2 linked regions of the Homo sapiens genome follow. The protein of the gene in region 2 interacts with the protein of the main gene of each other region in a pairwise test. Each region holds a gene or a part of one and is shown on either strand. Other genes may lie near its edges.

Evidence for each region.
Region 1: the proteins of ABHD6 (region 2) and CKMT2 interact in a two-hybrid assay, tested with the Homo sapiens proteins (one large-scale study listed by BioGRID and IntAct).

What each region holds. Positions count from the first base shown.
Region 1 is NC_000005.10:81,239,743-81,243,563, reverse strand, and holds part of CKMT2 (creatine kinase S-type, mitochondrial precursor), read right to left. Parts: intron 1-3,821. UniProt on the Homo sapiens protein: Reversibly catalyzes the transfer of phosphate between ATP and various phosphogens (e.g. creatine phosphate).
Region 2 is NC_000003.12:58,265,111-58,268,931, forward strand, and holds part of ABHD6 (monoacylglycerol lipase ABHD6), read left to right. Parts: intron 1-2,078; coding exon 2,079-2,235; intron 2,236-3,821. UniProt on the Homo sapiens protein: Lipase that preferentially hydrolysis medium-chain saturated monoacylglycerols including 2-arachidonoylglycerol. Through 2-arachidonoylglycerol degradation may regulate endocannabinoid signaling pathways.

The sequences.
Region 1 (3,821 bases), on a different chromosome or scaffold from region 2:
CTCAATTTGAAAAACACACATGTATATCCTACATTTGTATCTCTATTCTAATATTATATACTGTATATGACTTTTTAAAATATTGGTTTGCTGTTTCTATTTTGTGCTAATGCAACAAATCTAATTTGTTTTAGAAACAGTTATTACTGTTTCTTGCTTCTTATCACCCCCTACCGTTTGGACTCTGTTGTCCATCTTTCTCTGCCTAATTGGACCACAGCCTGGTGCCTCAATCCCCACAAAATCTGTTCCCTTCTAGCTCAAGATGACTGCATTCTCTCTCAGTTCGCAGTGTACTCATGGGCTGCTCATTCATCTGCCCTTGTGCTCTGTGCCTTTTTGGCATCTGCGGGTAAACTCAGTGCCACATATCTCTATTCTGTTCACTCCTAATGTTTGTATTGTCTTCCCAAGGGACCTCTCTTATGGCCCTGCTGGGCTCCTCCCCTTACCCACATGTGCCAAGCATAGAAATCAAGGCAACATTCTCAGTCCCTTTAAGGGAAGTTCCAGGTACCTAGCTAGTCCTACAGCCAGCAATTAGGGAAGTTAACGAATAACCTGCTAAACAAGAAGATAATAATTTAAAAGCCACTCAAGTAAGTCAGAGTCACAAAATGTTTGATTCCCTGTAGAAACTAAAGATAGCATCTTGACCTATTCCCTTGCATTGCTTTTCAGAAAACAATTCCCACACCAGATGGAAAATGCTGACCACTGTCATAGAACTCAGACAGACTGAAACCAAAAAATAGATATGGAAGTTCCAGAAATTCCCTAGCTCTTAACTCATTTTGGATACCCCCTCACTCCTGCTTTAAAAACCCTTGCTTATAAGCCAGCAGGGAGCTCAGGTGTTAAGTGCTAGGTACCCATTCTTCTTGCTTGGCACCCAGCAATAAACGCCTTTTTCTCACTACAAATCTCAGCGTCAATGTTTGGCTTTTTTGGCATGCTGGGCAACCAGAACCAACCCCATCTTTGTGTGCCTGCATCCAATTCTGATGAGCCTATGTATGTCAGGTTGGTCAAGGCCCTTTGTGCTGAACACCAAATCAACCTAATTAAGGTTGATGACAAGAAACTAGGGGAATGAGTAGGCGACCTCTGTAAAATTGACAGAGAGGGGAAACCCTGTAAAGTGGTTGGTTGCAGTTGTGTAGTAGTTAAGGACTATGGCAAGGAGTCTCAGCCCAAGGATGTCATCAAAGAGTACTTCAAATGCAAGAAATGAACAAACCTTTGTCTCACAAAAAAAAAGCCCACAAACTTTTGAATGAAATCTACTTATATGATGTGACACACATTTCTTTCAGACATGGATTTTGAAATCCTATCAATAAAAGCCACCAAGTGAGACACTCAGTTCTGGTTTTGAGCATGTACCTGCTCCGTTTCCTGGTATCTGCAAATTAGGGTGGCCCAGTGCAGGCTCCTGACCGTTTGACCATGACAGGCTGTCTGAACCCTGGGAGCTCATCGTGCCCATCGTCAGAGATGTCCGTATGTGACACAGCAGAGACTACCCCACAGATAACAGACGAAAGCCAGCAGAGTACAAGGCCTAAATGTGCATGTCCTTCTGTTTCCTTTTTTTTTTTTTTAGGGGTTCTGACTGAGCAGGCAGATTGGAAAGGAAGAATCAGATGAGGAGCAAGTGCTAGGTGTTGGGGAAACAATTTAAATTTCCTCCCACCCCAGAAATTCCTCTCCATAAAATATAGGAAAAAGAAAATATTTTATTATTGAATAAACATTAAACTAGTGATGCACATCTTTAGCATTCTGCTAAGGAGATTGCAAAGACAGACATCCCACCCTTTTATGTGGGCAAGCAAATAGGACCCATTCATTACATACATGTTCTCGAACTAAAGTAAGAGGACTTGACAGCACCATTTGTCAAGCATAATTCATCCTAAATTCACCTGGTGACCATTTGTGTTCGCTAATTGCCTTTATCAAAAGGAAAAATAAAACTCAAGTTTCTAGGACAGCAGGTAGTTTTACAACTTGGAGCCAGGTGCTTAAATGAAACTACTACCCACTGCCCTCCCACTGACAGTGGGAGGTAGGGAGCTATCTTCCTTGATGTCTGTATTTTCAAAGAGATGGTTTCCAGGCCCTTGCAGGAAAAGAGTCCTAGGTTGTAAAATCGACTGGAGCCTTACTTAGCTTTTAAAAAGATTTATATACATTTCAAAGGGGCAGCAAAATATAAGTTTTCTAAAGGAAATGCTCTAAGAAAAAGGAGGAAGCTCTTCCCCTTTTTGCATGGGCTTGTGGGGTAACTTACATTCTGGAATTCACGAGGAGCAGGAATTGGTTTCCTCCCTCCACGTGCTGGAAGGCACAGTGTAAGAAGCTTGGCAAGGCTCCAGTCGGGTGGACAATCACTGGGAATTCCACGCATCAAAGGGACAAGGGACAATCACTGGGTCCATCCTTTACTTCAGAGGGACAAGACCCAATGAATGTAGAACTGGGCCACAGTTTGTCTTGGTTCTTAAGCACGCTGGCCCACACATGATAGGTTATCATTAAATGTCTGATGAGTAAGTGAATGAATGTCAGGAACCTGAGAGGCTTTAGAGGTCATTTACCTCAGCTGAAATTCAGGCATCCCTTTCCCTCAGCCCTCCTTAAATACCAGCAGTCCTGGGGATCCCACCACTTGCCACAGCAACCCATTTTACTGTTGGATAACTGTAATTATTATAACATTTTTAATATCTGAATAAGGAGAGAAAACAAAATTCGAGTGCTTTCAAGGGCAGGGTACTTTTTTCAAAACAATCCCAAGAAGTAGGTATCCCATGTCACAGAGGAGGGAACTCAAAAACAGAGACATTAACTAACAGCCCAAGGTCACACAGCTAAAGGGAAATCATATGTATCGAGTGTCTGTTCTGCACCAGGCACTCATTTAAATAAAGATCCTTTCACTCACAATAGTTTACCATACAAATATTACAGCATGTCTAGATGGGGTCTTAACCATACCAAAGTACTGTATTGCATGCCTCCATCTGCCCTGGGACTAGGACCAGGTCACACACTGCAAAGGATTTGAGTGGAAACGATGAATAGACCCCTGCACACCCATGTGCATCAATGGAGGACTGTGGATGCCGTGTGCCCCCATTCCTCTGGGCCATTGTCATTAACCCTTTGTCTCCCAAGGAATGGAGCTGCCAGAGAGTTCCAGCTGCCTCAGATCCTCCCTGGTCTCTCAGGTATGCTGAGTGTTTTCCCTTAAGCAGGGTTTCCATAGGCTGATGCCGAGGGGAGGCTAAGTATGGGGCCAAAATGCCCACAGCACACAGGTGTCACTCCAGGCAGCACTGAGGGGAAGCAGAACCAGGGGATGGCTCTTGGGGCCTTCCTTCGCAGGAACACCACTCACTACAGGCTTCCAGGCGGTCAGCGGGTCATGTGAGTCAAGGGCAAGTGGGTGAATGACACTGATATGTTTCAGGTAGGGAGAAGCCATGGTGGGCAGCATTGGAGGGAGGGGAAAGAGGGGGTGAGGAGGGGGTAGAGATATGTATTTGTCTACTTATTCATCTGATGACTATTTACCTACTATGTGGCAGCTTTTCCAGAGTCCTTAGTCTGAGGAAAAAAACGCTGTGTGCTCGTGTTATTCCCATTTTACAAGTGAGCAGATGCAGGGAGAGAAAGGCAAAATAACTCACCCAGGACCACATGGTTTGTGAGTGGCAGCGCTGGGATTCTGGCCAGCAGTCATAGTCCACACTCTTAACCACGGCCCTCTGCTGGGCAACTAGAAATTGTGTGTGATTTGTGCTCTACTTGGG
Region 2 (3,821 bases):
TTGATTTTTAGATCCCATAAATAAGTGAGAGCATGTGATGTTTGTCTTTCTGTGTCTGGCTTACTTCACTTAACATAATGATCTCCAGTTCCATCCATGTTGGTGCACTATTCATATTTTTAATTACTAGTGAACTTGAACATGTTTTTTATGTTTGTTAGTCATTAATATCTTTTCTACTCTAAGGTACCTTTTCATTTATTTTGCCTAGTGTTGAATTAGGGTTTTAGCATGGTTGAGATCAATTTGTAAGCTTTTTATTTATTAAGGATATCATTCTGCAGCTGTCATATTCATTGCAAATATTTCCCCTAATTTTTCCTTTTAATTTTTGGCAAATGATGTATTTGGAAGGACAAAATCATCTTTACATAATACTAATAACTATCATGTACTGAATACTTACCATTTGCTGGGCATTGAACAAAACTTTGTACATGGATTACCTCATCATTTAATCTTTGCCATATTCTTAGTGGAATGCAGCATTTCCTCATATTATAAGATTATATAGTTAGTGTCTTATTCCATTTTGTGTTGCTACAGCAGAATGCCACAGACTAGATAATTTATAAAGAAAAGAAATTTGTTTGGCTTATTGTTCTGGAGGTTGGGAAGCCCAAGAGAATGGCACCAATATCTGGCAAGGGCCTTCCTGCTGTGTCATCCCGTGGTGGAAGGTAGAAGGACAAGAGACTATAAGAGTGAGCCAGAAGCAAGAGGGGACCAGACTCACTTTTATCAGGAATCTACTCCCTCAATAATAGCATTAATCTATTTATGAAGGCAAAACTGTCAGGGCCTAATTACCTCTTAACAGTCCCACTTCACAATGGCAATTAAATTTCAACATGAGTTTTGGAGGGGACATTCAAAGTCAGTAAGTGAATGAGCTGGGATGTGAATGGATGAACAAAGTCGTGTTATGATTTAGAATTTTGAAATACGCTTGCCTTGCTGTAAGAAGAGCTTTTAAGCTAGCCAATGCTATTATGTTCTTTACGTTTTGAGTAGGCAATGCAGTCATTAAAAAAGTTTCAAAAGAAACCAACCAGGTGCGGTTTAACCAGCTGGACGTCTGTAACCCAAGCACTTTGGGAGGCCAACGTGGATGGATCACTTGAGGCCAGGAGTTTGAGACTGGCCTGGCCAACATGGCGAAACCCTGTCTCTACTAAAAATACAAAAATTAGGCAGGCATGGTGGTGTGCACCTGTAACCCTAGATACAGGCTGAGGCACAAGAATTGCTTGAACCCGGGAGGTGGAGGTTGCAGTGAGCGGAAATTGCCCCAGCGTGGGTGACAGAGCGAGACTGTATCTAAAAAAAAAAAAAACCTGACCAAACAAACAACAAAAAAAAAAACCTTATGTATGCTCTCACATTTTTTGTATGCGGATAAAAGTAAATGAATATATATCTTCTCTCCCTCTCTGCTTATTTTACACAAAGAGTTAAGACCAGTCAGTTTAGGTTATTTGCTTTTGCAAGACTTGGCTACTTCTTTAGTGTGAAGTATCTTACAAAGTGCACCTCTGATTGAATTAATTATCTCTCATCTTGGAGGGATTCACCATGCAGAGAGTTCAATTTGTTTAGATGGTAATTTCATATTGAAATTGATTTTGGGCCAAAGTCCAGCACTGCCAAGTCTTATGTAACCAGCAGAAGCTGAGCTTTCAACCAGCTGCCATATGTTATGAGGAACAAAGCCAGAGGACCAGTGCAGATGGTTCTCAAGAAATAAGTTATCACTCTCAAAGTCTCTAGAAAGACATATTATCAAAAGGTTATCATGTGTGGCATACTTCTTAAGAAAACACCGCATTTCCCTTCCTAGAGTGATTAGTAAAATATATACCAAAATAGTTCATTTAAGGTGTTCTCTGGAATGGTTTGGCTTTGTGTTCCTTGAGGGTAAAGCTCAGGAGGACTCTAGAGACTGATGGAGGACAAGGGCTGGAGAAGTGTTTGTGTTATCACTAAGGAAGACTTATAGAGAGGACCTGTGCCCATCTTGAAGCCACTCATCTAGAGCTTACTGATTTCGTTTTGTCTTTATTTCTCACCCCTTCCAGGTACTGGCGGAGGACATTGGGCATGCAAGTCCGCTATGTTCACCATGAAGACTATCAGTTCTGTTATTCCTTCCGGGGCAGGCCTGGGCACAAACCCTCCATCCTCATGCTCCACGGATTCTCTGCCCACAAGGATATGTGGCTCAGTGTGGTCAAGGTGCAATTCTCGATTCTTCTCTCTTATAAGAAAAGGGAGTTGGGTGCTGTGGCTCATGCCTATAATCCCAGCACTTTGGGAGCCTGAGGCAGGAGGATTGCTTGAGTCCAGGAGTTCAAAACCAGCCTGGACAACATAAAGAAACCCTGTCTCTACAAAAAATTAAAAAATTAGCCAGGTGTGGTGGTGCATGCCTGTAGTCCTGGCTACTCAGGAGACTGAGGTGGGAAGATTGCTTGAGCCTGGGGGGTCAAGTCTTCAGTGAGCAATGATCATGCCACTGCACTTAGCCTGGGCAACAGAATAAGACTCTGTCTCAAAAAAAATAAAAATAAAAAAAGGAAGAAGAAGAAAAGGGTTTCCACTAGGACATGATGTCATCAACAATGGTAGAAAGCAAAGGGAACTCAGAACTGTGGTGGTTCAAGTCATATTAGAACTAATGCAGTGTGGCCTGGCACAGTGGCTCATACCTGTAATCCCAGCACTTTGGGGAGGCCAAGGCAGGCAGATCACTTGAGCCCAGGAGTTTGAGACCAGCCTGGGCAACATAGGGAGACTCCGTCTCTACAAAAAAATTAGCCAGGCATGGTGGCATGCACCTGTAGTCCCAGCTACTTTGGAGGCTGAGATGGGAGAATCACCTGAGCCTGGGAAGTCAAGGCTGCAGTGAACCAAGATCGTGCTATACCACACTCCAGCCTGAGCAACAGGAGTGAGACCCTGTCTCAAAACAAACAAACAAACTAATGCAATATGTTACTCATTCTTTTGTCAGAAAAAAATTATTGAGTTGAATATTATATATAAAACGTATGGCTTAGAAATCTTTTTACCTCATGGATATTTCTTTGGGGAGGCTTCTGACACAGCTGCATCTCAGAACTGCTGTGAGATCAGAGTTGGGCTTTGAAAAGTCATTTTTTTTGTACTCCCAAGTTTCTTCTCTTCCTTCCCCTCCATATTCTTCCTTCATTCCTTCTTTTCCTTTCCTTCCCACTCCCTCTTCTACGTCTGCTTTTTTCTTTTCCTTTGCCATTTAGAGAAACAGTCTTGATCTAGCAGCTTTCTGGAAGAGTTTTCCAAGTCACTTTTTGTCTTGGTTTACTTGGGTGTGGCAACTTGCTGCTCTTGGTAAGAGTGATCAGGTGTGAAGGTTGGGGCTGGCAGAAGTCTTGGGCAGGAAGCATCCCTGGCTCCCACATCAGGCAACACCATACCTGAGGGATCCCAAGTATCATCTACACCAGTAGGTGAAGACTCACACACCCTCTAGTTAGTTGTATTCTTATTTCCAAATTCCACTATGAGGACAGTCATTTTCATGCCTTGATGAACTTCCTGTCCCCTCCTCAGATAAATATCTTTCTTATAACTGGATGTTTGTTTGTTGGTAACTTATGTTTCTCAGTTTCCTGGTTAAAAGTGGTACATATCTAAATGGAAGAAGGTGTTTTAGGATAATAATAATTTGGAAAAGTAGACCTTAATGTAAAAAGAAACCAAACAAACCAGAATCGGGGTGATCAGATGTGGTTCTTGGGGAAAACATTGCTCCTGTTGGCTCTGGAGCTGGCTAGGATATG